Homo sapiens: one gene and its partner. The protein of the gene in region 2 binds, or shares a complex with, the protein of the main gene of each other region. Each region holds a gene or a part of one and is shown on either strand. Other genes may lie near its edges.

Evidence for each region.
Region 1: the proteins of GPR4 (region 2) and GNA13 are in contact, whole or in part, in a cryo-EM structure (PDB 9JHP), measured with the Homo sapiens proteins. Residues at the interface, in NP_005273.1 of Homo sapiens: Gln45, Asn50, Arg115, Ala118, Val119, Ala120, Pro122, Leu123, Ala126, Ile204, Val208, Ser211, Val212, Ser213, Thr214, Glu218, Lys221, Ile222, Leu225, Asn290, Glu291, Gly292, Ala293; in NP_006563.2 of Homo sapiens: Arg47, Pro341, Tyr343, Phe359, Lys363, Asp364, Ile366, Leu367, His368, Asn370, Leu371, Lys372, Gln373, Leu374, Met375, Leu376, Gln377.

The regions. Positions count from the first base shown.
Region 1 is NC_000017.11:65,046,716-65,053,740, forward strand, and holds part of GNA13 (guanine nucleotide-binding protein subunit alpha-13), read right to left. Parts: intron 7,014-7,025; coding exon 6,787-7,013; intron 1-6,786. UniProt on the Homo sapiens protein: Guanine nucleotide-binding proteins (G proteins) are involved as modulators or transducers in various transmembrane signaling systems.
Region 2 is NC_000019.10:45,599,207-45,606,136, reverse strand, and holds the start of GPR4 (G-prodeshotein coupled receptor 4), read left to right. Parts: upstream 1-3,924; 5' UTR 3,925-4,042; intron 4,043-6,930. UniProt on the Homo sapiens protein: Proton-sensing G-protein coupled receptor activated by extracellular pH, which is required to monitor pH changes and generate adaptive reactions. Activated by an optimal pH of 6.8-7.2.

The DNA.
Region 1 (7,025 bases), on a different chromosome or scaffold from region 2:
TAGGTCCACGCTCTAGGTAAAGAGTTCTGAAACTAAAGTCTACTTTTCATAACAAAACTATTTACTTGTTCCATCTCTTAGTTGTTTAATAAACATTTTCAGAGAATCATAAATTATTGTGCCCCTAGCTTTGTTTAGCAATAAAAGGTAATATAGAAAGCAGCACAGTATTTTCCAATTCCGGAAGCTTTAGCACCAAGAACCCAGACATCCTACAGCCAGTCAAGTTTTCACCCAAAAAAATGCGAACATGAAAATTTCAACATAATAGAATACAAGTGATACCACCTATGTGTGCATGCACACACACTTCACAAAGTTGTATTAAAACTATAAGTGTAAACTTAAAGGAACTGACGGAAATTTTAAAAAAGAAATTAATTAAAAAGAAAAAAACTTCATTTTTAACGTAAATAAACATAAAGCTCTGGGTTTACAAGATTTGGATAAAATGTAACCACTCTGACATCTGATCAATTTCATCAAAAGGAAATTAAACTCAACTTTAAAATCTCTACTATCTCTGGCTGGGTGAGGTGGCTCACTACTGTAATCCCAGCACTTTAGGAGGCTGAAGCAGGAGGATCACTTGAGCCCAGGAGTCCCAAGGTTACAGTGAACTATGATCACACCACTGCACTCCAGCCTGTGTAACAGAGTGAGACTCTGTCTCTAAAAAATATTAATAAAGTAAGATAAAAACCTCTACTATCTCTAATGTTATATATAATCTTTATTTTAGATGGGATGAAATATTTAACACTAATCCTAGAATCAAAAGATAACCAATAGGTTTTTAGCAACTCAAAGTCCTTGCTTGACTATACTTATAGAGAAAATGGACCAATCATCCAAAAGAAACATAGTATTTTACAACTGAAAGTAGCAATTCTTTAATATTTAAAGCAAATCCAAATTAGCATTAATTAATAAATGACTCTGATTCTTTTTTTTTTTTAAGAGGGAGGGGGCTGTCCTCACTATGTTGCCCACATTGGACTTGAACTCTTGAGGTCAAGCAATCCTCCTGTCTCCCCAGAAGCTGGGACTACAGGAGCTTCAAATGACTCTTGATTGTATTATATTTCCAATACATGCTGCAGTGCAAATAAATAAATAAAAAAAATTAGCTGAAACTGAAGTTTCTAGAATACTTAGTTGGACCTCCCCTTTTTACAGGCCAATCATGGAGCTAAATGGTTACTTTGTTACACAGATTGAGGGAGTAAATCTCTGTGTTAATGAATACACTATCTTATCGGCTTCAAGAAGAGTAACCTCAAGCACAAAAAGAAAAGAATTAAGTCTAACTGAAGGTACCATGATTAGCAAAAACACTTTGGTTTCAGGAATTGCAAAGACAGACTGGCCATTACAGGAAGTTGTATTAATGCTGACAATGTTAAACTGTTTACAGAAAGTAGGAAGCTGTGGGATGTTCCTCCCACTGTCACACACACTGTCCTGTCCTACGTAACAAGTGTTGCCTTATTTCTCAATAAGTGAATATAAATTAAACAAAAAAAAATAGTTGGAAATGACTCCTAGCCATTTTGTCAGTTTTCATCCATATCTCCAATTGTATCATCCAGCCAACCCCTGACTCCCATCTCTTTATTCATCTGAGTTACCAAATTATCTAGCTATTGTCACATAAGAAGGTTTTCTAAAGACAGGGTAACTCAAAAGTGCAGTGGCAGGCTATGTTGAATGTACAGCCAGAGTAGAGTATTTCAAATATTTAATTCAGTACTAAAACAGGCCACTTCTTACAATCTATTATCCTCAGTATGCTAATTTATAATAACTAGAAAGGTACCTTAAGTTATAACGAGAATGTGAATCTTGTATTTTTCTTTTCCACAGTAAGCTATTTAGCTGACCCATGATGGAACTAACCAAAAAAGGAAATGTTTACCTTTGGGAACTTAGAAAGAAAAACATTCATGTTTACACCCAAAGTTATTACTAACAAATGAGTAGTCTGCTAAAAACCTAAGCTGTGTTATCAACACCCTATCCCTTGTCCCGAAAATTGATTAAAGGGCAGTTGTTCATCTTAGGCAAAATGTTAAGTCATGTAGGGCCTTAAAACCTGTCAGTTTTTAATGTGCATTAATAAGTTTAATAATCAAATCATTAGTTGAAACGAAAAGGTTAATTTTAATTTTAGTTATTTTATCTGCTAACCTCTATTTCTTCTGATGTTTACCTTTCCTATCCAAAATTCAAAAATATGCTGCTAAACATAACAAAACACATTTCAACCCCCCCAAATAAAAATTATAATTACACAAGAACTGTCCACTTCCTAGAAAATTAGGAAACTATTATAGAAATAATCCATATTTCCCAGAAGGAACTTAATGTAGAATTAAATTATATTACATATTTTTTAATTTTTATTTTTTTGAGACAGGGTCTCACTCTGACGTTCAAGCTGGAGTGCAGTGGCATGATCTCCACTCACTGCAACCTCCACCTCCTGAGTTCAAGCGATTCTCGTGCCTCAGTCTCCTGAGTAGCCAGGACTACAGGTACATGTCACCATGCCTGGCTAATTTTTGGTTTTGGTTTTGGTTTTTGGTAGAGATGGGGTTTCACCATGTCAGCCAGGCTGGTTTCCAACTCCTGACCTCAAGTGATCTGCCTGCCTCAGCCTCCCAAAGAGCTGGGATTACAGGTATTTTATTTTTTTAGAACATCTTTGTAATTAAGAATGTCTGAAAAACGAGGAAATAAAAGTGTCAGGCACTATGCTAGTAGGAGAGAAAAAGACAAACTAGGCATACCAAAGGACTTCTACATGACTGACAGCCACACATGAAAGCTGTGACTCTAACACACATAATGGGTACTGTGAGGAGTGACAGGAGTAAGCATGCTAGGGAAAGCAAAGGACACGGAGATCTCCATTCTAGCCAAGAAGACTGGAGATGCTTCAAATAAAGAGACACAGCCCCTAAGGCACTGTTCCTGGGGAAAGGGAGGGGGCATGGAGCAAATTCATCCAAACCACCTATGGCTATTTGCTGAAAACACAGATCACTGGGTCCCATCCCAGAATCCAGAATCAGATCCTCAGGTATAAAGTCTGAGCATCTGCTTGTTTGTTTTAACAAGCATTCCAGTCCATGGGGTCCATGGGCCACATTTAGTGTGATTATCACTACATTAAGTGAAGGGTAAGACCTAGTAACAGATAGGGTAAAGAATAATTCTGGCAGAGGGACTACGCATGATGAGAGCTATAGAAGCAAAAAATTAGGGTATGTGGGAATCAAGAGATTACAGAGTATGTCCAGTGGCCTAATGAAATATATTGCTGGAATCACAGGTAAGCTAGCTAGAGTCTTTACTCCCACAAAAAAGCTGAGCTCTGTTCTGAAGACAATGGTGAGCCACCAAAGCTTTCTGAGCAAACCAATGCTGTGTTTGAACAAGACTGCCTTGGAGTCCAAGCAAGAGGTAGCAGAACACAAAATAGAGGAAAGGAGGGAATGAATGCAAGAGACGTTACAGAGGTAGAAAAATCAGAACTTGGGGAGCTGCTGCATGTAGATGAGTAGATGGAATTGATGATGACTTTGAGGAAAATTTTAAGTAAGCCAAGTGCCTTCTCAGTGCCTGACACTATGCCAAGCACCACAGCACATCCAAGAGTTTAAGAGTCATTAAGTCAACATAATAATGGAGCATCTCTATGTGTCAGGTGCTATTAACAATGCTGAAGCCACGCACAGTGGTTCATGCCTATAATCCCAACATTTTGGGAAGCCAAGGCAGGAGGACTGCTTGAGGTCAGGAGTCCAAGACCAGCACTGGCAACATAGCAAGACTCCGTCTCTACAAAAATTTTTTTTTAAATTAGCTGGGTGTGACGGCACACACCTGTAGTCCTAGCTACTTGAGAGACTGAAGCTGGAGAATCACTTGAGCCCAGGAGTTGAGTCTACAGTGAGCTATGATCACAACAGGGCACTCCAGCCTGGGCAACAGTGAGACCTTCTCTTAAAAAACAAAAACAAAAAAACAAAAAACAATGCTGAGCGTAGACTCAGGAAAAAAGAATCTCTGTCCTCCAGAAGTTTAAAATTAGGTCTTGCTCTGTTCCTCTTTTCTTGTCTCTACTTTTCATCATGGAAAAAAGTATTTCTGGAACTTATCTCTCCTCATCTTTGAGGACTTCTTTGCTCCTTAAGGATCAACTGGCTCAAGTCAACAACAAGCAGGTCCTCATCCTGAGTGGTTTTACCTATTCGTTCTTAATCACAAAGATATACTTAGGGATGCTTTCTCAACAATGAGGACATGACAGTCCTGATGTGAGACAGTTAGACGTCAGCTTCCAAATTAAAAAACTGTCCATGAAACACAACTTTAATTAAATGGACTTAGGGCAAATACGGAACTTCCCCACAGAGAACTTTCAGGTATGCAGTTCTTTATTTATTCATTTAATCCATATGCACTGTATGCTTATTACAGATGAATGTTTCTTCTCTGACCTGGAAGGATGAATAGAGCCTGACAAAATTGAGTTGAAAGTGTGTGGTTTGTTGAGAAAATGAACTAAGAAGAAAGGAGAATAAGCAGCACTTAAAAACAGGAGGTAGATGGCCAGGCACAGTGGCTCATGCCTGTAATCCCAGCACTTTGGGAGGGCAAGGCAGGCAGATCACCTGAGGTCAGGAGTTAGAGACCAGCTTGACCAACATGGAGAAACACTGTCTCTACTAAAAATACAAAATTAGCCAGGTGTGGTGGCGCATGCCTGTAATCTCAGCTACTTGGGAGGCTGAGGCAGGAGAATCGCCTGAACCCAGGAGGCGGAGGTGAGCCAAGATCGCGCCACTGCACTCCAGCCTGGGCAACAAGAACAAAACTCTCAAAAAAATGCAAAAAAACAAAAAACAGGAGGTAGAGTGATGGGCGATGGAAAGGGGTATATGGAAGAACTCATGCAAGCAAATCTACCAAAAATAAAGTAATAAACATTGATCAAGGGACAAAACTAACCAGAAATCTGGGAATTGGATGGAGGTCATTTGTCAAGTTAAATTCATCATTTTCAACATGCAATACTGGCAGCTACGTAATTTTAACAATAATGTGAGACAGTCCCTGCCTTTCAGAAATAAACACATTACTTGAAAAGACAAGATACAAACATGATAGAAGAGAACTATACAAGACGGTAAATAATCAAATGCTAGTTGAATGACAGATATAAAAGCCATAATTCAGATATAGTCAAAATTAAGGTGTCAGTTTTATAAAAAGCTATCGTGAACACTTTCCTGGAACTTTTAAAAGGCAAGACTGCTTCTAAGTATAAATAATAACAGCAAGGACTGCTGGTTGTACATCGCTTTGCAGCCACACCCATTAATGTGGATTAATGTTGGTGACATCATCAAACAACTTCCTAAGCAGCTTATTTATTTTTTTTTTGGAGATGGAGTTCTGCTCTTGTTGCCCAGGCTGGAGTGCAGTGGCACGAACTCGGCTTACCGCAGCCTCCGCTTCCAGAGTTCAAGCGAGTCTCCTGCCTCAGCCTCCTGAGTAGCTGGGATTACAGGTGCCTGCCACCACACCTGGCTAATTTTTGTATTTTTAGAAGAGACGGTGTTTCACCGTGTTGGCCAGGCTGGTTTCAAACTTCTGACATCAGGTGATCCACCCGCCTCAGACTCCCAAAGTGCTGGGATTACAGGCATGAGCCACCGTGCCCAGCCAGCAGTTTTACTTTTAACTGTCACTTCATTTTAATCATATTAGAGTAAAACACTTCAGATCTGAACTACCTCCAAATTGCACACAGTCTAGATTTCTATCACTGCTGGAATCTTTCTGATCTTTGGCAAATAAAACCCAATCACAGCATTCACAGTTAAATTACAAAACACTTGATTAAAAATTTGTTTCAACTGTATTCTGTATCTTTAACCTGGATTGGATACTTTTATTCCAAACCTGTCTTCAATGCTGTGTAACAGCTACAAAGCATTTTATGGGTAGTCTCGTTAAAGAAAAAAGGGGAAAAATGCCTGGCACAATGCCAGCAATTTGGGAGGTCAAAGTGGGCACATTACCTGAGGTCAGGAGTTCAAGATCAGCCTGGCCAACATGGCGAAACTGCCTCTACTAAAAAGACAAAAATTAGCTAGGTGTGGTGGCACGCGCCTATAGACCCAGCTACACAGGAGGCTGAGGCAGGAGAGTTGCTTGAACCCTGGGGGCAGAGGTTGCAGTGGGCCAAGATCACACCACTGCACTCCAGCCTGGGCAACAGAGACTCCGTCTCAAAACAAACCCCCCAAAAACAAAAAAACAAATTTCTGAGGCTATAATTTTGGATAGATACATTAAATTATGGAAGTCAGTGAAAAAAGTGTGCTAAAATCAGATACAGGTTGAGTGTCCCTTATCCGAATGCCTGGGACCAGAAGTGTTTTGGATTTTGAATTTTTTCAGATTTTTGAAATATCTGCATACATATGAGATATGCTGGGAATGGGACTCAAGTCTAAACTAGAAATTCATTTATGTTTCATATATACCTTAAGATATGTAGCCTAAAGGTAATTTTATACACTATTTTTACACGTAGTCATTAGAGACTAGGACACATTAGGTCTGTGCCTTAGCCTTTCAGTCTGTTCCTCCATCTCAAATACTTTTAGATTTGGGAACATTTCGAATTTTCGCATTAGGGATGTGCAACCTGTATTACTAAACATCATTAAAATAAAACCACACGTTTTAAAAGAGCAAATCTCTTACCAGTTGAAATTCTCGACGCCGGTCATAGGCATTCTGTATGCCGCTGTCTGCCCATAATGCTCTTATAGCAGGAAGATATTGTAAGAAAACCCTTGTTTCCACCATTCCTTGGGCTGCCATGGGGGCCCGGGTATCAAACGACATCATCTTATCTCCATGTTGTTGGTTTGAGTTGTCTCCCCAGGGAATATGAAGCTTCTCTCGAGCATCAACCAGCACCCTCATACCTTTGTTTAAAA
Region 2 (6,930 bases):
GCCCCAGAGGTAGAGGCTGCAGTGAGTTATGATGGAGCCACTGTACTCCAGCCTGGACAAAAGAGTGAGACCCCATCTCTTAAAAGAAAAATCCCTGAGAGGAAGGGGGTAATGTGGTTCACAGAGGTAAAGTCACCTGTCCAAAGCCACACAAGATTATAAGAATAGCTATGTTTTTGTTTGTTTTATTAATTAATTAATTTATTTATTTTTGAGACAGAGTTTCGCTCTTGTTGCCCAGACTAGAGTGCAATGGCACGATCTTGGGTCACTGCAACCTCCACCTCCTGGGTTCAAGTGATTCTTCTGCCTCAGCCTCCCGAGTAGCTGTGTTTACAGGCATGTGTCACCACGCCCGGCTAATTTTGTATTTTTAGTAGAGACAGGGTTTCTTCATGTTGGTCAGGCTAGTCTTGAACTCTTGACCTCAGGTGATCCGCCTGCCTTGGCCTCCCAAAGTGTTGGGATTACAGGCATGATCCAGTGCACCTGCACTATTTATTTATTTTTTGAGATGGAGTCTTGCTCTGTCGCCCAGGCTAGAGTGCAATGGCGCAATCTCGGCTCACTGCAACCTCCACCTCCTGGGTTCAAGCAATTATCCTGCCTCAGCCTTCCGAGTAGCTGGGATTACAGACATCCACCATCACACCCAACTAATTTTTGTATTTTTAGTAGAGACGGGATTTCGCCATGTTGGCCAGTCTGGTCTTGAACTCCTCACCTCAAGTGATCTGCCCACCTCAGCCTCCCAAAGTGCTGGGATTACAGGTGTGAGACACCGCACCTGGCCGATATCCTGAGTCTTGATTTGGGTGTTTAATTACATGGTGTATCCAATTTTCAGGATTCCTTATATTCTTCCCTTAAGATCTGAACATTTTAATCAAATTTTTTGAGACTAATTGTTAATTAAATGTAATTTTTAATTACATTTATTTTTTAATCACGGCTAATTTTTATTTTTTATTTTTTTTTGTAGAGATGGGGGTCTCACTTTTTTGTCCAGGCTGGTCTCAAACTCCTGGGCTCGAGTGATCCTCCCGCCTCAGCCTCCCAAAGTGCTGGGATTACAGGCATGAGCCACAGAGCTTAGGTGCCCTTTCTTCCCCCTCTGTTTCCCAGGCTGTAGTGCAGTGGTGCGATCTTGGCGCACTGCAACCTCCGCCTCCTGGGTTCAGGTGATCCTCCCACCTTGGCCTGCGCAGTAGCTGGGACCACAGGCACGCACCACCCAGCTGGCTAGTTAAAAGAAATTTTTTTTTTGTAGAGACAGAGTCTTGCTATGTTGCCCAGGTTGATCTCAAACTCCTGGCTTCAATTGATCAACCTGCCTTGGCCTCCTAAAGTGATGGGATTACAGGCATGAACCACCATGCCTGGCCTACATTTTAATTTAATTTAAAAATAAACACAAAAGAGCTGGGCGCGATGGCTGATGCCTATAATCCCAGCACTTTGGGAGACCTAGGCAGGCTGATCACCTGAGGTCAGGAGTTCGAGACCAGCCTGGCCAACATGGTGAAAACCTGTCTCTACTAAAAACACAAAAAGTAGCCGGGTGTGGTGGTGTTCACCTGTAGTCCCAGCTACTCGGGAGGCTGAGGCAGGATAATCACTTGAACCTGGGAGGTGGAGGTTGCAGTTAACTGAGATGGCACAATGGCACTCCAGCCTGGGGGACAGAGCAAGACTCTGTCTCAAAAAAACAAAAAACAAGCCAGGTGCCGTGGCTCATGCCTGTAATCCCAGCACTTTGGGAGGCCGTGGCAGGCAGATGACCTGAGGTCAGGAGTTCGAGACCAGCCTGGCCAACATGGTGAAACCCTGTCTCTACTAAAAACAAAAAAATTAGCTGGGTGTGGTGGTGCATGCCTGTATACCCAGCTACCAGAGGCTGAGACAGGAGAATTGCTTGTACCCGGCAGGAGGAGGTTGTATTGAGCTGAGATCATGTCCCTGCACTCCAGCCTGGGCACAGCAAGACTCTGTCTCAAAAAAAAAAAAAAAAATCAAACCTGACAGCTATCATTTTTTAGTGTTATATGCCACATCTATCTGAAGTCCCTTGACCAATAATGAATTCTCATGATTAGTTTATGAAAGATGTGATGTTAATAATAAAAATAAGCTAATGTTTTAGGAGCACTTATCATTCATTTGTTCACTCCCTGAAAACAATGTTTTTTGTTTTTTGTTTTGAGATGGAGTCTTGCTCTGTCACCCAGGCTGGAGTGCAGTGGCGCGGTCTTGGCTCACTGCAAGCTCCGCCTCCCGGGTTCATGCCGTTCTCCTGCCTCAGCCTCCTGATTAGCTGGGACAACAGGCGCCCACCATCACATCTGGCTAATTTTTTTGTATTTTTAGTAGAGATGGGGTTTCACTGTGTTAGCCAGGATGGTCTCCATCTCCTGACCTCGTGATCCGCCTGCCTCAGCCTCCCAAAGTGCTGGGATTACAGGCGTGAGCCACCACGCTCGGCCAGAAAACAATGTGTTTCACACCTATCACCTGCCCAGCAGTCTTCTAGGCAACAGACATGCAACAGTAAACAAGCCAGACACAAAAATGACACTCTTCCTAGTAGGAAGGCAGACAACTAGAAAAAAATAAGAGAATGTTGCCTTCCCCAAAGGGTAGGGGAAAAGTGAGGCAGAGAAAGATGGGGAGTGTTGGGGTCTGGTTGGCATATTTTACAGACTTGATAGCATTGACACCATTAAATGAGACCGCCAGGAGAAAAGGACCATGATGGCCGGCCTCGGTGGCTCAGGCTTATAATCCCAGCACTTTGGGAGGCCAAAGCAGAAGGATGGCTTGAGCCCAGGAGTTTGAGACCAGCCTAGACAACATAGTGAGACCCCTGTCTATAGAAAAAAAAAATTTTTTAAATTGGCCAGGTGTGGTGGCACACGCCTGTAGTCCCAGCAACTCAGGAGGCTGAGGTGGGAGGATCACTTGAGCCTGGAAGGTTGAGGCCGCAGGGAGCCATGATCGTGCCACTGAACTCCAGACTGGGCAAGAGAGTGAAAACCTGTCTCAAAAAAAGAAAAAAGGTGGGGCACGGTGGCTCACGCCTGTAATCCCAACACTTTTTGGAGGCCGAGGTGGGCAGATAGCTGGAGCTTAGGAGTTCGAGACCAGCCTGGCCAACTTGGTGAAACCCCGTCTCTATTAAAAATACAAAAATTAGCCGGGCGTGGTGGTGTGTGCCTGTAATCCCAGCTACTCGGGAGGCTGAGGCAGGAGAATCGCTTGAACCTGGAAGGCAGAGATTGCAGTGAGCCAAGATTGTGCCACTGCACTCCAGTCTGGGCAACAGAGCATGACTCTGTCTCGAAAGAAAAGAAAGAAAAAAGCAAAGCAAAGCAAAGCAAAGAAAAGAAGGAAGCAAGCAGGCACCATGAGTGACCACCTTGATTCAAAGAGGAAACTGAGGCACGGAGATGTCACTAGCCTAAGGTCTGACCAAGAGTCAGGCTGGAAATGCAACCCCAGAGCTCCTTCTAGGGGTGGCCCTGACTTTGGAGTTGGGGACCTAACAGAACCCTTTATTCTCTCCGTTGTTGGGGAGGAAGATGCAGAAGGTTAATGACCAGAGGATGAATGACTGAAGCCTGGGGTCTCTAAGGGAGGAAATGGCTTAACCCAGGGAAGGTCAGTAGCGGGGGCCTCCTCTTCCCATAGCCGAGGACCTGATAAATTTGGGGGTGTGTGGTTGGAGAGAGGGGACCTTCCAGCTGGGGACTTGGAAGGATTCGGGGGTGTTCCAGTAGCAGATGAGCCTCACCCGTGGCTGGAGGCGTTTAATGGGGTGAAGCCTGAAAGGGGTTAAGGGGCAGCGGCAAAGGTGGGGTTAATGGGGGCGGGCCTGGCCGGGGCGGGGCCTCGGCTGGCGGCTCTGGCCCGGGGGCCGGGAGGAGTAGCCGCTGTTCTGCCCCGCGGGGGCATCCGCTGGGTCCCCGCGCCGTTGTCAAGACCGGGGACCTGGACGCAGCGGAGAGAGGTGCCGCCGCCCGCCCCGTCCAGTCGCCGCGCGCAGGTAAGTGCCGGGTCCTCCCCGGCTGCCCGCGATGCTGCGGGGTCTCACTAGGTTGCCCTGCTCGTGGCGAGACCGCTCCTCCCCGCCCCCTCGGGGGCTGCCTCAGTCTCCCGCGCCGTCTCGGTGCCCGCCCCCTCTGTTGCTCTCCCTGGCTTTGCGTCTGTCTCCAACTCCCGCCTGATGTCTCTGTGTCTGTGGTCCCTCTGCCTCTGGACGTGTCTTTCCTTCTGTGTCTCTGGATGTCTCTGTCTTTTTCTTGATCTCTGCCTCTCTGTCTCCGTCTGTCTGTCTCTGTCTCTCTGTTTCTGGGTCCCACCTCCCTCTGCCCCTGCCTCTGCCTCACCCCCGTCTGTTGTGGGACCTCTGCGGATGTCTCTGACTCTATCTCCATCTCTCCCTGTCTCTGTGTATCTCTTTGCTCTCTCCCTTCCTGTCTCTTCATCTCTATTGCCCTGTCTCTTTCTCTCCGTCTCTTATAACACTGTTTTGGCACCTTCAGCTCTGTCTTCTCTCCTTCCAAATCCTCCGCATCCCGGAACTTTCCTCTGGGCTGGGAACCTGCTTGGGAGTGGGGTAGGGGGCAGGAGGCTTGTGACCTGGGGCAGGCGGACTCTAAGTGACACCATGATCCCAGCGCCCCCTTCACGGAGCCACCCCACTGCCCCTCAGGTCGCACCCAGCCCGCCCGCCAATTTCAGGAATTCCTGCCTGGGGGGTGGACTTCCTCCCCTACTTCCTCTCTTCCAGGATTTGGCTGGGTCACCATTAACTCTTTCCTGCTTCCGCCTCACTCTCCCCCCTGGAACTGGACAACCCCTCCTCCCAAACTAGGCTGAGGAATAGCTCTAGGATATCTGTGAGGCATCGGTTGTGGGATGTGTGTGTGTGCGTACTCAGGCTGGATATGCATTGGGGAATTTGTTTGGCGCAGAAGTGGAGAGGATGGGGCCACACCCCCCAGTTCCCCCTCCAGAGCCCACCATCAGCCCCCCTCCTCCTGAGCCCACCAAGGGGGTATCCGCCCCCACCTCTGTCTTTGTAGATGAACTTGACTTCAGGTTTGGGGTGAGGATGAGGAGGTTTTCTTTTCTGGGGGAATCCCAGCTGAAGAGGATGAAAGACCCATAGGGGCTCCTGGAACCCTGGGAATCCTATGATCAAGTACCTTGAATGTGAACATCTTTGAATGGAAGGGCCCAGATGGAAGAAGCATTGGAGGGGAGGCCTGGGAATTCCAGATCTTTCCAATCAAAGGTCCTGGGGATACTGGAGTCCTTCAATCCAAAAAGAGGAGTGTTGAAATCTTGGCACGTTTCAGTGATGGCAGCTGAGAGCTGGAAAGGGTTTGCGGAGCCACCTAGGCCAACTCCCCCTGCCCCCATTTTATAGATGGAGAAACTGAGGTCCAAAAGCAGAAGTCCCCACAGTGAGTCAGTGCCAGGCTGGAGGGTTGGGACCCCAGTTTTCAACTGAAGCCCAAATCCACAGAGCTGGCTTCTTCTGCTACCACTAAGTCGGATTAATTTGGGGAAAGAGGTCTTCTCAATGAGGAGGGAGAGATGCCAGGGTGAGTAGAAATGGCTGGAATCCAGAAGGGAGGGTTTTAGAAGCAGAGGAGAGAAAATATTTCCAAAACCATGGTGGTGGGGAGGGAGAGGGGCAATAGTTGGTTTGGGTGGAAGGGGTGGAGTTTCGGGAAGAGAGGGAGGGAGGTGGAGGGGAACCGGGATTAACTCCAGCTTCAGTCTCCTGACCCTCCGCCTGGAGCCCACCGTTCCCTCGGGGACAGGGCCTATAATTTGGTTTGTGTCTAGACAAATAATAACTCAGCTGGTGTGAGCGGGGAGGGCTGAGGCTAGGCCCACTAGCGAAAGGGTAGAGAGGCGGCCTGGATATAGCATGTCACCCCCAGGTGGTGAGAATTTAGGGGCCAGGTGGAGGTGGTGACTAACACGCCCCTCTCTTCCCTCCATGAAGCCATAATTTCTTAGAATTCTGCACAATCTTAGAAATCAGGCTGCTGGAATGTTCAAAAGCAGGCGAGAGAAGGGGGGAAAGAAAAGGAAGTGGGGCTCACCGTATTTAGTGTATGTTCCCATTTCTGTAAAAGAGAAAAGGGAAATACATATTCCTGTTTGCTGGGGAAAGATAAAAATCACTGAGCGTTTAATAATAGATTATGAAAGTCATAGAATGCTTAAAAAAATCATAGCGTGTTCTAACAATAGAACTTTCGAATCTTGGAATGTGACACTCCTAGAATATTGGAAACTTAGGGTAGGTACTTACAAAGCCACGATGTAATAAATAGAATGAAAGAAGAGTAACGCTCTAGAATGTTATAATAGAACATTCAACTGCGAAGTGAACTAAGGATAGAACCTGAAGACTGCAGAACCATAGAGACCTAGAACGTCAGAGAGGCCATCTAAGGACTGGTATCCCTAGTAGGCAGTGTGGGCTTTGGGGGCACAGAGACCCTCTCGGTTGAAACAGGGATACTGAGGTGCAGTGGGGCCGTTAGGGTAGCCCGATTGCCCCCTGGTTTCCGCCGGCCGCCAGGGCACCAGGTGGGGAGCGAGGACCAGTGATCACATTTCGTCCCTAATGAGCAGACCGGAGCTGGCTGGTCCCTTGGGGCTGCAGGGAGAAGGCGGGGAGGGGGGGGTGGTGGGAGCAGGAGCCCACAGAGGAGGAAAAGGGGGAGGTGAGATAGCCTGGTGGCATCGGGGACAAGGCTGGTGAGTGAGCCCAGGGGTGCTGGGGGATGCGGGGGGCTGTAGCACTTCTCCCTCTTGTCCTCAAAATCCTCCAAGTTTTTCAGCTTTGCTGGATTTTGGGGTGGCTGGCAGGATGCGGCAGCCGAGGCTGCTAAAGTTGGGGGGGCC